Linked DNA regions of Homo sapiens: region 2 is linked to region 1. The links come from fine-mapping of genetic effects on gene expression. Tissue or cell type: testis. Region 1 holds a variant in brackets; the other region holds the start of a gene. All regions are shown on one strand. Distances are between the middles of the regions.

Region 1 (4,328 bases):
GCCACAACGGAAGAAGGAGAATTGTCTTGGGCCACACATAAAATACAGTTAACACTAATGATAGCTAATGAGCTTAAAAAAAAAAATCGCAGGCTGGGCGCGGTGGCTCATGCTTATAATCCCAGCACTTTGGGAGGCCGAGGTGGGCAGATCACTTGAGGTCAGGAGTTTGAGACCAGCCTGGCCAACATGGTAAAACCCCGTCTCTACTAAAAATACAAAAATTAGCTTGGAGTGGTGGCACACACCTGTAATCCCAGCTACGCCAGAGGCTGAGGCAGGAGAATCGCTTGAACCCAGGAGGTGGAGGTTGCAGTGAGCCAAGATCGGGCCACTGCACTCCAGCCTGGACAACAGAGCGAGACTCTGTCTCAAAAAAATTCTCAAAAAAAACTCATAATGTTTTAAGAAAGTTTACAAACTCATGTTGAGTTGCATTTAAAGCCATCCTGGACCACATGCAGCCCCACAGGCTGTGGGTTGAACAAGCTTGGTCTAAACAAATACCCTTGTAAGTGTGGAACTGTTACCCTACCCTCCTTACCCCCCCCCCAAAAAAAAAAAAACTTGACTAGAAAGTGGCCCTATTAATTCAAAAAATAGTAAATTTTTAAAAAGTGTTTATACCAAAGGCTACTGCTACTAAATACTCCAATTTATAGGAGTTGTGAGTATGTGAGTAGGAGGATGGAAACTGGCAAGGGCAGGGGGAAACAAAATACGTATGATAGCCAAATTATACAGACAGAAAAGTTATGGACAACTGATTAATTTCAATAATTCTAGGATATGTTTTAGGTGTACTCAGAGGGTTAAAGGTCATTAAGATACCAGATGAAACTTGCAAGTACATCTCCATTACCGCAGTTAATAATTATACAATTTCTCAATCTGCAGAAGGCCGCTTCAGTCGGAAAAACCAATACAACCATAATCCTTTATCTTTAGAGTGGTCAGAGTCTGATGAATGGGTCAAAGATTTCTAAAACAGGATGAACTGTATCAGCAGGTTTTGTCTTTGCAGAACACTGCAACTAAAAAAAATGCTTATTACAAAACATGTATCATTAAAAGAGAGTGCTTTTCCCCTCTTATTACCAGGGAGTGAAAAAACTCCCTGTAGTAATGCCTTTTCATGTCTATTTTACCAAAAACACCAAAAAAATCATAAAGTTGCTCAATAGCATCAAATGACAAAGAAGCCACATGGGATTGTAATTAAAAGCAAGGGATTTGGAACAAGAGAGATGTGGGTTCAAATTACTACTCTGCAACTTACTCAAACTTGAAATTATTGAAGTTAAGTGATAGTTGCATGGGGTTCATTATACTATCCTTTGCTGGTGGTTAAAGAAAATCATCCTTTTATTCTTTGACCTGATTGAACCAAATTCAATTTGCTATCATAGTTCATTTGTGTTAACAACACAGTACTAATAACCCACGTACTGTGTATATTCATGCTGAACTCTTTTAAGAATTACTAAATGTTGGGAGGCTGAGGCGGGCGGATCACGAGGTCAGGAGATCGAGGCCATCCTGACTAACACGGTGAAACCCCGTCTCCACTAAAAAATACAAAAAATTAGCCGAGCGTGGTGGTGGGCCCCTGTAGTCCCAGCTACTCGGGAGGCTGAGGCAGAAGAATGGCGTGAACCCGGGAGGCGGAGCTTGCAGTGAACCAAGATCACGCCACTGCACTCCAGCCTGGGCAACAGAGCGAGGCTCCGTCTCAAAAAAAAAAAGAATTACAGGCCGGGAGCAGTGGCTCACGCCTGTAATCAATCCCAGCACTTTGGGAGGCTGAGGCGGGCAGATCACGAAGTCAGGAGATCGAG[A/G]CCATCCTGGCTAAAAGGGTGAAACCCCGTCTCTACTAAAAATACAAAAAATTAGCTGGGCGTGGTGGCGGGCGCCTGTAGTCCCAGCTACTCTGGAGGCTGAGGCAGGAGCATGGCGTGAACCAGGGAGGCGGAGCTTGCAGTGAGCCAAGATTGCGCCACTGCATTCCAGCCTGGGCAACAAAGCCAGACTCCATCTCAAAAAAAAAAAAAAAAAAAAAAAAAAATTAGTAAATGCTTGTACCTAAATTTACTCTTTAAAATAATAGAAAATGTCCACTTTTTATGCGACTTATGAAAGGATATAAGATGATTTTTTTCCTCAGAAACAAAAGCAGTTGAAGTTTAAAGCTATCGCTCATTTAGTATCTCAAAGTAATAGCCACTAAAGCCAACCTGTGAGCAGACAACTGACTTCTCGACTCTCTTTGCATAACTTTTAATTTCCTTTGCAATTGTCTTTGGTATTCATGTGAGACATCTGTAATCACATTCTCATCAACAACTGAGATGCCTTAGGCCAGTGTGGGTGAGCCTCTCTTATTCTGGCTTGCAATACAACGGGAATTTCTCCCTTTCACTCTTGTTCCAGGGCATTTGCCTTCTCCCAATAAAGTCCAAGCACTCAAACAGAAAGTGAACTTTACTCTAGCTGGTTTTCTGGCCTTAGGAATAGGGTGAGGCCAGGTGCAGTGGGTCATGCCTATAATCCCACCACTTTGGGAGGCCGAAGTGGACAGGTCATGAGGTCAGGAGTTCAAGACCATCCTGGCTAACACGACAAAACCCCCGTCTCTACTAAAAACACAAAAAATTTGCCAGGCATGGTGGCATGTGCCTGTAGTCCCAGCTACTCAGGAGGCTGAGGCAGGAGAATCGCTTGAACCTGGGAGGTGGAGGTTGCAGTGAGCCAAGATCGTGTCACTGTACTCCAGCCTGGGCGACAGAGCGAGACTCCGTCACAAAAAAAAAAAAAAAAAGAAAAAGAAAGAATAAAAAGAATAAGGTGAACATGCCTTCTGATTTGCCCAGAACAGTCCTAGTTTAGGCATGCCCTTCTGGTGTCCTGTTTAGTCAGGATCTTTTTTCCTTCTCAAAGGGTTGGAGATAGACTATATGGTATTCCTAGTTAAGAACCATATAAACACATGAATAAATATTCTATTAATGAAGAATGTGCCTTCTAATACACTTTATCTAAAATATTATAACAGGATTAACAGGTAAAGGGAAACATTGCTCAGTTTTCCTGTTAAAATATTTAAATAACAATGAAATACTAATTGAAATAAGGTTGAATTTTGTCTAAAAACTATGATACACATTTGAGACTCTCAAGACTGAGGTAAGACTCAAATGAGGTAAGACAGAGAACCCATGTTTGGCAACTAAGGGGGAAAAAAAGAGGATCATGGCCGCCAGGTCTGTGTAATGAAGCTATGAGACAATGGGATAAGAGTTTTTTGGATCCAGCATTACTAGAAAATGTCTCAGCCCAGATGTCATTTGTCCAATGTCACGCCTAAGGTCGAAGAAGAAATCCTCAAATTCCTAAAATATCACACTTTGCCTCCCCATCCACACCATGCAACATCAAAAGGCCAGAATTTGGCCACGCACGGTGGCTCAAGCTTGTAATTACAGTACTTTACTTTGGGAGGCTGAGGCAGACAGGTTGCTTCAGCTCAGTAGTTCGAGACCAGTCTAGGCAACATGGTAAGACTATGTCGCTACAAAAAATTTTTTAAAAAAATTGCTGGGTAGGGTGGTATGTGCCTGTAGTCCCAGCTACTCAGGAGGCTGAAGTGAAAGGATCACCTGAGCCTGGGAGATCAAGGCTACAGTAAGCCGTGATTGTGCCACTGCACTCCAGCCTGGATGACAGAGTGAGACACTGTCTCTAAAAAAAAAAAAAAAAAAAAAAAAGTAAAAATAAAAAGGACTGAACTTTAAAACTAGTAATCATGAACTCACAGGTAGGTGCCAGGGGTATGCCTGCCAACCCCTGTGCTTGCTTTCATCTCCACCCACCTCCCACAAAAGATGAAAAACAAAACAAACACAATCAAGAAAAATTAAAAAAAAAAAAAAAAGAACTTTGCTACTTATGCCTTGACATTCCTTTGTGAAAAGTCATACTCAGCAAATAACAACTCCACTATCCCAATTCCCCAGGCCAAAAACCTTGGCATCATCACTGATATCTTTCTTTTTCCCTGTGCTCTACTTCCAATTTCTCATCAAATCCTTTTGGTCCTATCTTTAACGTTCATTCAGGGTTTGACCACTTTTCTCCACCTCTACCTGCTACTGCCTGGCTCAAATCACCATCCTTCTTCCACCACCATCCCCCTAGAAAACAGAGTTTACAAAAGGAACTTGCCCCAGGTCAGGAAGACTGCAGGTAGTGGAGGGAGTACTGGCATGTAGGAAATCAAACAGCAGAACATAAGTTCTTAACTACCACACTGACTCTCTGGTTTTTTGCCT
Region 2 (4,328 bases), 100 kb before region 1:
GCTATGGTTGTGGCCGATGTCCCGTGGCCAATGCCAGGCTGTCCTGCTGCCTCAGGTTCCACCTGTCAGCAACTGGAAGATCAACCACCTATGTAGCAATCAACCAATGTCATTTTGAGTAAAAGCCCCCAGTTCTCAGACACTTCCAGACTAGCCCAAACATAGAGACCTTTGAGTCAACGTACAGAGTCCAGCTCCCGCCATGCTGCCACAGCAGAGGAGCCCAGGCCTTTGGGATATGCCCAGGGGACTACCAAGACCACCACAAGTGGGCTCCATCTCAGACAACACTGTGGCATCCATCTAAGTCCCCTCTTGGTTTTGTTCGTTCGTTTGTTTGTGAGACAGAGTCTCGCTCTGTCTCCCAGGCTCGAGTACAATGGCTCAGTCTCGGCTCACTGCAACCTCTGCCTCCTGGGTTCACGTGATTCTCTTGTCTTAGTCTCCCGGCAGCTGGGATTACAGGCGTGCACCTCGGCGCCCAGCTAATTTTTGTATTTTTAGTAGAGATGGGGTTTTCGCCATGTTGGCCAGGCTGGTCTCGAACTCCTGACCTTAGGTGATCCACCTGCCTCGGCCTCCCAAAGTGCTGGGATTACAGGCATGAGCCACAGCGCCTGGCCCAAGTCCCCTCTAGTTAAGTGGCAAGCATTTGGATGATGACTTATGTGTCCGGCAAAACCAAAACAGGAAAAGCAAACCTATATGATCAGGCAGGAAAACTGGTTCTATGTTAAAATATGGACCTTACCTCTCAAGGACCAGGCAGGAATGCACACAGCACAAACCCCCATTGCACAGTGGGGATACAGCACCCTCCAGGAGGTGGTTTAATCCACCCCAGAGTGAACGGGGCCTGATAGGAACACTCAGGGCCAACTCTGGGCAAAGCAGCAGGCAGCATTCCTAAAGGGAGGGTTTGGAGGAGACAAAACCTGCCCTTCACAATGAACGTGCCTTAAGGGCTACATGCCCCGGGTCACAAGCTGTGCCAGGAAAGGGTTCTGGGGTAACTGTGGGGTCAGTGGCCCCATGGATGAGGCTCTGCTCACCAGGAAGAGGCCTAGGCGCCCAACAGCCCCTGAGCTTCCTCCCCTGGGGAGGATTTGCCCACAATCCCTGGGGGGCACCTAGGTGGAGAGGGTGCCCCGGCCTAGAAGCAGCCTAGGCGGCCGGTGTGTCCCTATCTGCACGCTCACAAGCACTCATGCCCCAGCCTGGGACACACAGGCCCGTATGCAGTAACAGCGTCTACCCAGCTGCACTCTGCACGCCAAGCACAGGCCGCCCCTGCTGCGGGGCCAAAGGCCTGAAAGCACCGCACCACGCAGCCTCGCCCAGAATAGCTCCCCTCCCGCCCCTCCTGCACAAAGCCCACCCGGACTTAGGGAGAAGGGGGCTCAATACGGGCCCGAAACGAGGCTACAGACCTTCTCAGGAGCAAAGGCAGCGACTGCAGGCAAATGGGGCTGTGGGCCGGGGTAATGATGCGGGACAGGAGAAGCCAAAGGGCAGCAAGGCTGGGGGCGGGGTAGGCGGCGCAGTAGGCTGAGGGAGGGGAAAAGGAAGAAGGGGAGAGGGAGGAGCGATGGCAGCAGGGGTGGAGGCCGAAGGAGACAGGGTCCCGGACAGACTTGTGAAAATGGGAGGATGGGCAGAGGAGACGTAGAAGAGGGGACAGGACAGGACAATGAGAGGCGGAGCGCGGGGAGTGCGATGCGGCCACCGGGGGCTCTGGGCGCTGGGCAGGGGCCAGGATGCCGGGGGTCTGAGCGCAGGCAGCGGGAAGGAGTGGGTTCTGAGGCTCAGCAAGGGGGAGGTGCCGCCCACCACGCCCCCCGCCCCAACGGGAGCGCGCGGAGCCAGCCTCTCACCCTCTCGCCCGCCGGGGCCGCGCAGGCGGGGGAAGCGCTGCTCCTGCGGCCGCCACAGGTGCCAGGTGCCGCGGCCCAAGATGGAGCCAGAGCCGACCTGGCCTGGGCGCGAGACGCCGCCCGCCGCCGTCGGCCCGGCCCGCGGAGCAAGCGCCGGGTACAGGGAGGGGCCAGCGGGGCAGCTGGCACCGGGGCGGCGGGAGGGGCGGCGGGCGGAGACCTCGCTCACCTGGGCCCGTGCCACTCTGGAGCCTGCCACCGCCCCGCCGCGGCCCGGGATCTGCGTCCGCGCGCCCCCACCCCTCCTTCCCGACCCCTCCTCAGGCCGGGTCCCCACTGTCCTCGGTCTTTTCGGCCCCGCCCGCACCACGACCGCCTGTTCTCCAGGCTGCCCAGCGAACCCCCAAGACTCCCACTTCCCCGACGCAACCCCACCGTCCCGGGTGTATAGGCGCAGCTCCCCACGATTCTCCGGCCCCAGACCCAGCCCCTCAAGTCCACCTCCTCGTAGCCCCACCCCCTCGCTCCAGTGCCCCTCGCTCCAGTTCCCCCTCCGCACCACGCCCCGCATTGAGGTCTCCGCGCCGGCGGCTACCCCTTTCCTCTCGCCTTCTCCATCCTAGCTCCGCCTCTCACAATTCTCTGGCTCCAGATCCCGCCCACGAGACCCCGTTTCCTATAGGGCCCTTTCGTCTGGGATACCAGGCCTGGTCTCCACTAGCCTCGGACTTTCCAGCCCCAGGTCCCAAATCCTGGACCCACCGTCCCATCCTCTGAGCTCCACTCTCATGGACCCCAAACCTCACTCCAGTCCTTTGAACTCCATGATCCTGGCCTGGCCTGGCCCCCGGAGCCCTCCATTGCCCCTCAAGAGCCCAGCCTGGTAGACTCCTTCCCTAGGGTTGCATCTCCAGCCCCGCCCCTGAAGACTGGTAATCTACCACCCCTTTCCCTGCCCACGTGCCCCTACCCAGCCCGACTTGAGGCCTTCAGTCTCCCAGCCGCGGACCCCAACAGCGGGCGAGGGCAGTGACCGTGCGGGGATGAGCCACCTCCACTGGAGCCCGCCTTCTTCTCCGCAATTCCCCGCAGCACCACAGCGCCTTCCCGGTCCCGTGACGCCGGGGGCCAGCCCAGGCCCTGGGATCGCCAGGTTCCACACTATGAGGCTGAGGACCTGGGCCTACGGTTCCCTCAATATCCCCCAGTTTCCACAACCGCTGGCCAGCTTCAGGGCGCAGGACAGGCAGCCCCGGCCTCCCGCCACTCGCAATAGATTCCTGCTGTCCACCCAGGGCCACGTGGTATGAGGCACCTGTACTATCTCTGGGCCCCAGTATCACATAATTGGGTCCCAATGTTGGCACTTCTCCGTTGTCCCCTGTGCCGGGACCCCCAACTTGTTGGCCCAGCCCTGTGCTGAGAGGCCTGCGTTCCTCCCTTCCAGTGCCCAGGAGCCAACAGTATCTCTAATTCTCCCCGTTTGGGTAGCAAAGGACCTCAGTCTGCCCAGAGAGACTCAGACTGCCCCAGGTAGCCCTCTCCAGCGAGGTCTGAGAGCAGCTCTCAGATTCTGGCAGATGGCTGCCTTTGGCCAAATGCCCACAGGGGTGTCGACGTCAGACCCCAGGCTTGGGCCTCACCATCACACACTGCCTGGTAGGGGGATCCTGCTTAAAGGAGGCAAATAGGGGATTTGTTTGCCGAGGCCACTACCCACTTCTGCCCCTGTCCAGGAATTAGGACCTCTGCTTCCACATCTTAGGCATCTTACTCATATTCCCTCTTTAGTGAAGTCAGCTGAGCCCCAAGAAGGGATGGACTGCTTGTGGTTACACTGAGAGTTGGTGCCAGATCCAGGCCCCAAACCTGGGGCTCTCAGCTCCCAGGACATCTCAAGAACCAAGAACCTCACTGTGTGTTTCAAGGAAGCCTTCTTGGGGCTGGGTGTCAGGAGATGTCTGCCATGCAATCTACCTGTGAACACAGCTGGCTGGCCCTCACCCCAGGGCATCACTCCTTGTCCAACTGGCCCCCTTCTTCCATTCATGCCCTGGCAAGGAGGCTCCCCTGGCTGTGGCAGCTGTCCAGGGAGAACCCAGCATGGGGAGTCACACTTAAATTCCAATCTCAACTCCCCCACATATTCACTGGCTGTGCAACCCCACACCCAAGCAAAACTGTTCATCTCTCTGGGCATCAGTTTCCTCATCTGCAGAGTGGTAGTAATTATACCTACCTAACAGGGCTGGGGGAAGAGGGTGTTTGTGAACGTGTCCCGTGGAGTGTTATCGCTGCTATCAGTCACTTGATCAAATATTTACTGAGCTCCTCCTGGGTCAGGTCCTGGAGGTACAAGCTGCACTGCATGGGGGAAGGAAGGGATGGATATGTGTAGATTGCTTTGGTAGAGAGCAGCTCAGGCCTGAGGACCACATGGGCCAACTACCATTT

What was found. PIP is the estimated chance that this variant, and not a neighbour inherited with it, causes the effect.
Region 2: GPRIN2 starts here. The variant in region 1 is fine-mapped to the expression of GPRIN2 in testis (GTEx, PIP 0.99).

The regions. Positions count from the first base shown.
Region 1 is chr10:46,656,708-46,661,035 of GRCh38, forward strand. No RefSeq gene overlaps it. Among named protein-coding and RNA genes, the nearest start is that of LINC02637, 29 kb to the left of the region's middle. The variant A/G (reference allele first, on the strand shown) is at 1,839.
Region 2 is chr10:46,554,624-46,558,951 of GRCh38, forward strand. GPRIN2 (G protein regulated inducer of neurite outgrowth 2) reads right to left here and starts at 2,035. Exons shown (of 3, transcript NM_001385282.1): 1 at 1,875-2,035; 2 at 1-72. RefSeq lists enhancers at 1,366-2,071, 2,777-3,482.